2 separate regions of the Homo sapiens genome follow, and region 1 is linked to region 2. The links come from fine-mapping of genetic effects on plasma protein levels. A gene starts in region 2. The other region holds a variant in brackets. All regions are shown on one strand. Distances are from middle to middle.

Region 1 (4,318 bases), 69 kb after region 2:
AGTCTGCTGTTAGCCTCCTAAATGAAAGGATAGACAGAACAGGTCTTGTTTGCAAAATAAATTCAAGACCTACTTATCTACCGACAGCAATTATACACTTTCCATTGTCTTTCTATAGAAAATAGGAGTAGTAAATTTATAGAGGAAAAAACTGGAGAAAGACATAGTGAACACATGAGAATCTTCCTCTACTGATTGATAGGAAGGTGACTAGAAATTGAAAAGAGATTATACTTTTTTAAAAAAAGAAAATTATATAAAAAAAGATAATCATACTGTTGTCTTGTGGCCTCTAGAGTCAACCAGAAATGAACCCTGTTTCCACGTCTGGGTTGGCCACATAGATTCTGGCCACAGGCCTAAAAAGGTCTAGGTGATTAGCTTCTTGCCCTATGATTTCCATCACTTTCACGTTTCTCTAGCTGCAGAAGAACCTTGTGGTTTTAAAAAACATCACTATGGGGCTGGGTGTGGTGGTTCACACTTGTAATGCTAGCACTTTGGGAGACTGAAGCAGGCTCAGCTGTCCGAGACCAGCCTGGGCAACATGGCAAAACCCCATCTCTATTAATAAAAACATCACGATAGAAATAAGCCTCTTCTTGACTAAATGTTTAACCCTCTCAGTACAAGTCCTACTTCTTTTCAGAGATCTCTTTCCTCCTTTAGAAATCAAAAGAAAATATTATTTATTTATTTATTTATTTTGAGATGGAAGTCTCACTCTGTCGCCCAGGCTGGAGTGCAGTGGCGTGATCTTAGCTCACTGCAATCTCCGCCTCCCGGGTTCAAGCGATTCTCCTGCCTCAGCCTCTCGAGTAGCTGGGATTACAGGCATGTGCCACCATGCCCAGCTAATTTTTGTATTTTTAGTAGAGACAGGGTTTCATCATGTTGGCCAGGCTGGTCTGAAACTCCTGACCTCAAGTGATTGACCCACCTTGGCCTCCCAAAGTGCTGGGATTACAGGTGTGAGCCACCACACCCCGCCAAAATATTGTCTATTTCCACAGACATGTCCACAATGACAACTTTATCAGACACTCCAGCCCTCCAATTTGTCAACATTAACTTAAAATCTTTGGTTCTCAGGCTTCAGGTCTTGGGTGTCTATTCCCAGGAGAGTTTCACTGCGACATGAATAATTTGGTTTGCCCCGTTGAGACTGCTTTTACTCCTTGGAGAAGGGGCCAAAAAGTACTGAAACAGAGCTCTAACAATGTAATTTAAACATCCTGTGAGAGGCCAGGTGTGGTGGCTCACTCCTGGAGTCCCAGCACTTTGGGAGGCCGAGGTGGACTGATCACTTGCGGCCAGGAGTTCGAGACCAGCCTGGCTAACATGGCGAAGCCCTGTCTCTACTAAAAATACAAAAATTAGCCAGGAGTGGTGGTGCACACCTGTAGTCCCAGCTACTTGGGTGGCTGAGGCAGAAGAATCGCTTAAGCCTGGGAGGCGGAGGTTGCAGTGAGCCAAGATTGCACCACTGCACTCCCAGCCTGGGTGACAAAGTGAGACTCTGTCTCAAAAAAACAAACAAACAAAAAAAAAACCAATCCTGTGAGATACAAAAAGCACTCTTTGGCCAATAACTGAATTATATAAAAAAACCTATCTTTTCATTTAGAGACCATCCCTGAGTCATCAAATATCTATATCTAGTAACTGATAAGCCTATACTGGCCTACTTCCACTTGAATATATTAACTCATGTGATCTAAAACAGTGATTCTGAATGTTTAATGTGTATATAAACCACTGGGCATCTAGTTAAAATGCAGATTCTGATTTAGTATGTCTGGGGTGGGGCCTTGATTCTGCCTTTGAAATAAGCTCTCAGGTGATGCTAATGCTACTGGTCTTAGGACTCAGCTTTGAGAACCAAGGATCTAGCAAACTCAGATGAAAAATTTATAATTCCTTTGTTTAGCATGTTCAGCCAGCGGTTGTTTGGTTCATCTGAGCTCAGACTCAGTATTGATAAATTCAGATTAGCTCATATGAATACCACCTAGACAAGCATCATTATAGAAGGCAACTGCCCTGCTCCCAATGAGCAATTCCTTTACTAAAAAATTTAGACCAAATAAAACTTACAAGTAAAAATAGGGATGAAGTATAAAGAAATGGAAGAACAACAAAGAGGAGGCTCAAAATGGGAAAAGCCCTTTTGGGATTATCCCCTTGGGTTCACATGGAAATTAAGATTTATGCAAGTGAGAGCTGATGTTATTTTTTTTAAAACTGAGACACCCTCTAGAAAGAAATAAGACTTAAATCAATCCCTCATTAATACCACTAAGATATGAAGACATGTAAACAGACTAAACTTTTGAAATTTTTAAGGTAAAGTAGAAAACAACAGAGAAAAGCCATTATTCTGACTCACCTTATAAGCGCAAGCAAATTGTCAAGAAGTTTCAGAATCTGCTCTGTGCAGGGGTTACGGAAGATTGGATTTCCACTGGATGTATAACCCACCACAAATCCCCCAGCTTTGGCCTCTTCTAGGTCAGTGGGCCAGCAAGTTCGTTTCACCACACCCAGAATGCTGTATACACAAAAGCTCATCTATAGAAAAATAAGAATGACAGATAAATATTAAAAGGAAAAAAAAAAAAAGACCAAATACTGTTAGATATATTCAAGGTTCTGGCAAAAGTGACACAGAGGCCAGAGAGAATGAAATAATCCTCTGCTCCCCGGCAATCCCCCATCCCTTCCTTTAAGGTGAAGTCCAAGAGGGATCCTCTCACTGCCATTTTCAGGGCCAGTGGTAGGCTCTGGAAACTTCCCTTGCAGTAAGCTGTCTTTCTAGGAGCTGCAGTGACCCACCCACAGGACCCTGATGAGAAGGTGGCTTAGATACGATCCAAAACAAAGTGTTTAAAATGCCATCACTTCATCTTCTTTGAGTTGACCCTTATTGGGCCTTGACAGCTAGTGTCCTAATCCCCCCTCACGGTACTCTGAATCAACCTACTACTTGCCAGGTTAATTAATGGGACTTGTGCCATAATGGAGCCAGGAACAATGCTTATTTAAATAGCAAAGCACTGAAAAATCTCAGGTTTGCAAGTTAAGCCATCACTTAAGACTTTACATGCCAGAGAGCAATGGCAGGGAGGACTCACCCTGCTGACCAAGTTCTGACCTACTTCCTCATTACACCTTCAGTCTTCAGAGCTATTTAGAGATCCTTAAAGCCAAAATAATGACTTCATAGAAAAGACCATCTGCTCTGCTGTGGGAACTAACTCAAGAATTCAAGACTAAAGAAGAAAAGAAAGGAGAAGCTTAGGGAAGTGGAGACTCCCACGTTTCTCACCAGTATAGAAAAAACAAATCTATGAGAAACTTGACAAAAGACAACACCCTACTCCTACCCATGGCCAATGCCACTTCCCATTCCCAGGAAAGTCTTACTCGTGCACGGTTTAAGCCACACGGATCCTCCAGGCCTGGGTCACAGCTCTTCTGATCTGTACCCACATACGCAATGAAAGCATCAACATCTGACAGCACTCTGAAGGTTGGAGGGGGAAAAACAAGTTACATCATGACTTTAAACAAGGACAGTTTCTTCCACAGGAGTTAACAGG[C/CTA]TATCATTATTTGGCCCTTAAGAGCAGTTTTTATAGTGAGAGGAGTATAATCATACTAATTGTCAGTTGTCATTTGAAGGTTTAAATTTCCCTTCCCACTCCCAAATATTATTAGTAACAATTTAAGAATTAAACAAGAATATAATCTTCAAAATATAAAGAAAATAATTTCTCTACTGTGTGAGCACAGATAAGTGTCTGTGTGGTTGTATGGCCCTTCCTAGCTGTTCTCATTTTTCTAAATGTGCTGGTGCTGCAATGCAGACACCACAGGAGTCTCACTCTGTGCCCTCCCCACCCACAATCTAATTGAACCAGAGATTAAATTACAAAAGACTGCTTTTAGAGAACTTCAGATATCATGGATAATGCCATCACACTTCAATATCCTTAACCCCTACCCCACCCTGGGCCTAGCTCTTAAACCAAAATGGGTGCTTGAGTATAGTAAGAGTCAGGGCAAGGGATCTCCTTTACCTGTGCATGTCTTGAGAAAGCCAGATGCTGGCCACTGGTGCCATCAGCTCCTCTAGGAACACCTTCTGACGCTCGTAGTTCTTAAATTGGTTGCTAATGAGAACCAGGGCTTCCATGAGGGCACACTTCTCCATTTGTGTCAGGAGTAGCTCATTGGAGAGGAGTTGCTTCACATGGTTATAAAGCATGTCAAAATTGGGCTACAGATCAAAAAGAAAAAAAGCCAGAGGTGGTAAAGG
Region 2 (4,391 bases):
ACCTCTCCCTCTGGGAATCTGGAAGCCTCTGCTGAGGTTTTTGTGTGTGTGCGTTGATGGGGGGTGGGTACATGAGATCAGCTTCACCAAGGGGCAGACCAGCTCCATCTCTAGGCCCAGGGAAATGGGATACCTTGCTGCTCTGAAATGTTGATGAGCTGCGGAGGGGAGAGGGACAGGGGAGCAGATGGAATTCCTGGACAATTGTTCCGGCTGTCACCAGAGAGGATAGGCTGGAGGGGGCCCTGGATAATTTATGGAGGGACAGATGCTTCTCCGGAACCATCTGGCCAAGAGAGGCCTGGGCTCGGGGTGGATGATGTCTTTAGGTCTGAGGAGACTCCTGGCCTCCAGCCTTCCTCATTTCCTCTACCTGGCCTGCTCGGTGCCCTGGGGCTTTCCTAGGATGGCTGTGCTCCCTGAGGACCCAGCTGCAGAATTCCACCTGATCCTCATCTCACTCTCTCCTTTGCTGAGTCTGGGGCTTGTCTTTGCTACCATTCCTGTTAGTGCTAAGTGGGGCCTTGAGGTCATGTAACTTCCATCTATGCATTTTCTTATTTTATAGTATTTTCAACCCCTCTTCTCCACCAGTATATTCCAAAATCTGTCAATCACCAACCTCCATACCATTTATTCATTCAATAAATATTTACTGGCCGGTGCAGTGGCTCACACCTGTAATCTCAGCACTTTGGGAGGCTGAGGCAGGTGGATCACTTGAGGTCAGGAGTTCGAGACCAGCCTGGCCAACATGGTGGAATGGTGGAACTCCCATCTCTACTAAAAATACAAAAAATTAGCTGGCATGCGCCTGTAATCCCAGCTACACAGGAAACTGAGGTGGGAGAATCACTTGAACCCGGGAGGCGGAGGTTGCAGTGAGCCGAGATCGCACCACTACACTCCAGCCTGGGCAACAGAGTGAGACCCTGTCTCAAAAATTAATTAATTAATTAAACAAACAGAATAAAAAAAATCTATTGAATACCTACTATGCCAGGCATTGTTTTAGACACTGGGGATACTGTGATGAGCAAGAAAACATCCCAGACCTCTGGAGTTTGCTTTGTAGTGGGGAGATGATCAATAAACAATAAATATTTAATATAATGTCAGATAATGATAAGTACTATGAATGAAAACATTAAAGCAGGGTAAAGGAGAATAGGGATGCTGATTTAGATTGAGTGGCCAAGGAAGGCTTCTCTAAAGTGATGACACTTGAGCAAAGACACAAATGAGAGTCAATATTTGGAGGAAGAACATTCCAGGTATGGGGAATAGCAAATTTAGAGACCCTGAGGCAGAAATATGCTTAATGCATTGGAGGAAAACATGCCATTTATTCATTAGGCAATTATTGTGTGCCAAGCACCTGCTAGGGAGTATGAAGATGCAATCAAACATAGTTTTTGCCCTGAAGAAGCAGCAGGGCAAAAGTGGTATAACATGTAAATAAATAATTACACTGCACGGGACAGCTACAGTAAAGCTATGTACAAGTTGCTAGTGATGCCCAGCAAAAGGAGCACTAAAGGGAAATCTTTCTGGGGGAGGTGACATTTTAGCTGATGGTTTGAAGGAATAGGAGGAATTGATGATGCAAAGGAGGAGGAGAGAGATTAGACATCTTAAGGCCCGATGTCCTGAAAACAAAGGACAATTTGGGAACCTGAAGTTCCCAGGAGAGGCAAAAAATGAGGCTGATGAAGGTGGAAGAGCCTGGATCATGCGGATCTTTGAATGCCAAACTGAAAAGCTGGTTTTATTCTCTGGATGACGGGGAACCAGTAGCACGATTCTCTCTCCCACTGTATCTTTGAGATGTGTTCCCCTATTCTTTTTTTTTTTTTTTTTCTTTCAGTACTGGATTCTTTCCCCGCTTCCCGCTATTGCCCTGCTCCTGACACCTCCTTCCTTCTGTGGCCAGTCCTCCAATCCCTGCTTTCAGGAGAGCCCCATTTTTCACCATCACCTACCTAGTGTCCCACCTCCCCAACCCGAGGCCCCGCCCCCATGGCCCCGCCTCAGATGACGCGACACGCCAAGTGCGTGGGGATTCCCGCGGCCCTGGCCACTACCCGGCCTGCCCCGCGGCAAGATGGCGGCCTGAACGCAGCTGGCAGCGGCGGAAAGTTTGTTGTGGGGTTGGAGTAGTCGGGCGGGGAAGCCAGAGTTGGGGAGGATTGCGGGGGCCCTAGCCTGTAGTAGGGGCGAAGGGGGTACTGGCTCCAGGGTTGAAAAGAGGAGATGGAATGGAGTAAGGTCCGAGGCGGAGAGGAAAAAAAGGAGCTGGGGCGGACCGGGGCCCTAGGGTCCAGTGGCAGCCCTAGGGGAGGGGGATTTGGGGGCGGGGCAGCCAGAAGTAGGTGTTGTGCAGGCCCTGGAGAAGCAGAGTCACAAGTTGGAGGAAAATTTCTTAGCCGCGAATAAAGAAGCCTGGAGCGTGGGATAGAGGCCCGACTGTATCTGGCCGGCCAGAGGGGAAAGGGATCTTTCTAGTAGAGTGGGATAGTGAGGAAGAGAGATCTGGAGGATGCCGGGCAGATCTGCTAAGGAGGGAACTAAAGCCAGTCAAATGACCCTCTTCTAGGCTTAGATCAGCCTTTCCACAGCTGTTAGCAGCATCTGCCCCAATTTCAGCTGAAGATTCAGGTGCCCCAGGGACTGGAAGAAATTACAGTGCCTACTTGGAAAGAAGAAGAGATAGCGACTTGCCCCAGTCCAACCCCAGAGCGGGTAAGGTGGCTTCCAGTGACAGGTTTCTGGCTGGCATGCTCCCTGGGAGGAGGATGCATGGGCTTAGAGTGATGCCAAGAAACATTTGGTCTGAAAAGGGCTCACTTTTATAGAGTTTGTCCTTTGTCTGAGGTCCTTAAGTTAGTGTTTGGCGTAGATTGCAGGCTGACTTTTGAGAGTTGGTGTAGAATTAAGCCTTGTGTGCCTTCACCTATGCAAGTAAACCTGGACAGAGGCCTAGAGACCAGGCCGAAGGATGTTAACACATCCCTGTCACAAGCAGTTTCCTACATGCTCATTGTTTCTGCTTCAATATCCCCATCACTTCTTCACTTTGGCGTCCTGCCTGGAAGTGGAGATTTGTGGGTGACAGATGGTGGGGAGTCACGAGAAAACAAATTCTGATCGTGTTCACTGACCATTTAGGTACCTGCTGTCACTGACTCCTGAATTCATTCTCGCTGTGTGTCTACTTTTGCTTTTTTGGTAAGAAGGGCTCATTAGTGTTCCTCTGGGGATGTGGATTTTGGTGGGGGTATCAGAGGTGAGGGAAAGGCAGGTTGGGATTAGAGAGAAAAAATGTAGATCAGTTTCTGGTAAGAGATCAAGTGGACTGATGTAAAGCTCTGGGAATGTTTAGCACCGCACTGCCTATCCTTGAGACCCCTAATATTTGAGAGCTACTTTACAGTTGGACAAGTGTGGTGATGCAAAGAAAGGATCATGGAACTTGCTCTTTTCTTTTCTGGTAGTTTTTTTCTCTCCTTTGTAATCTTCCCATCAAACCACTTTTGAAAAATATCAGTCTCAGTAGCCAAACTAAGCATGGCCTGAGAGGTAGTGGATTTGGTGTTGGAGAGAAAGGAAAGGGACTGGAGCCAGAGAACACAGTGAATGTGGCCTTCACTTCCTTTGGTGAGTGTTTTGCCCTAGCCAGAGTTGGGAGTAGCCTTCTTATTGAAGCCTGCTTCAGGATCAGCATCGCTTCATGGTGGACTAGGATGGTTTGATCTAGAACTCTTCATTTACTGTCTGCTCTGTACCTGTCCCCCCAATCAAAGGCTTACTCCAAACAGAACAACCCAAGTCACTGTTACTAGGTCAGCTTCAGTACCTTTAGGTATTTGAAGAACTGATGATATGTAGCTGTGACTCTGTTTCTGAAGGTTGAGAACCTCCTTTTTCTGAGGACAATTCGTGCCCCCTTTCAAATTGTAATTGTAATCACCCAAGGGTAGTGTGGTGAACACACATAACAGTTAATAGCACTGACTCTGAGCCCGGCCTAGTGGCACATACCTGTAGTCCCAGCTACTTGGGATACTGAGATGGGAGGAGCACTTGAGGCCAGGAGTTTGAGGCTGCAATGCACTATGATGGCACCTGTGAATACCCATTGTACTCCAGCCTGGGCAGCGTAGGAGATGCAGTCTCCAAGAAACAACAAAAAAAGCACTGGCAGGGTGCAGTGGCTCACTCCTGTAATTCTAGCATTTTGGGAGGCCGAGGCAGGCGGATCACGAGGTCAAGAGATCGAGACCATCCTGGCCAACAAGGTGAAACCCCATCTCTACTAAAAATACAAAAATCGGCTGGGCGTGGTGGCATGCGCCTGTAGTCCCAGCTACTCAGGAGGCTGAGGCAGGAGA

Direction of the effects. Alleles are on the strand shown, and positions count from the first base shown. The strength of an association depends on the size of the effect and on how common the allele is.
With allele CTA in place of C in region 1, the plasma level of the protein whose gene starts at base 2,080 in region 2 is lower (weak association).

Evidence for each region. A credible set is the group of variants that fine-mapping cannot tell apart. PIP is the posterior inclusion probability: the model's chance that the variant is causal. Protein levels are from antibody-based Olink assays in UK Biobank. Linkage for the fine-mapping came from a reference panel and not from the study's own genotypes, which makes the PIPs less certain.
Region 1: its variant is the best candidate, but not a certain one, in a credible set for the plasma level of the TJAP1 protein (UK Biobank, PIP 0.62).

What each region holds. Positions count from the first base shown.
Region 1 is chr6:43,544,182-43,548,499 of GRCh38, forward strand. It overlaps XPO5 (exportin 5), which reads right to left. Exons shown (of 32, transcript NM_020750.3): 18 at 4,080-4,279; 19 at 3,427-3,526; 20 at 2,390-2,571. It also overlaps a transcript of POLR1C not described here and LOC124900224. Among named protein-coding and RNA genes, the nearest start is that of POLR1C, 29 kb to the left of the region's middle. RefSeq lists an enhancer at 2,788-3,987. The variant C/CTA (reference allele first, on the strand shown) is at 3,603.
Region 2 is chr6:43,475,491-43,479,881 of GRCh38, forward strand. TJAP1 (tight junction associated protein 1) reads left to right here and starts at 2,080. Exons shown (of 11, transcript NM_001350562.2): 1 at 2,080-2,138; 2 at 2,597-2,742. RefSeq lists an enhancer at 2,430-3,223.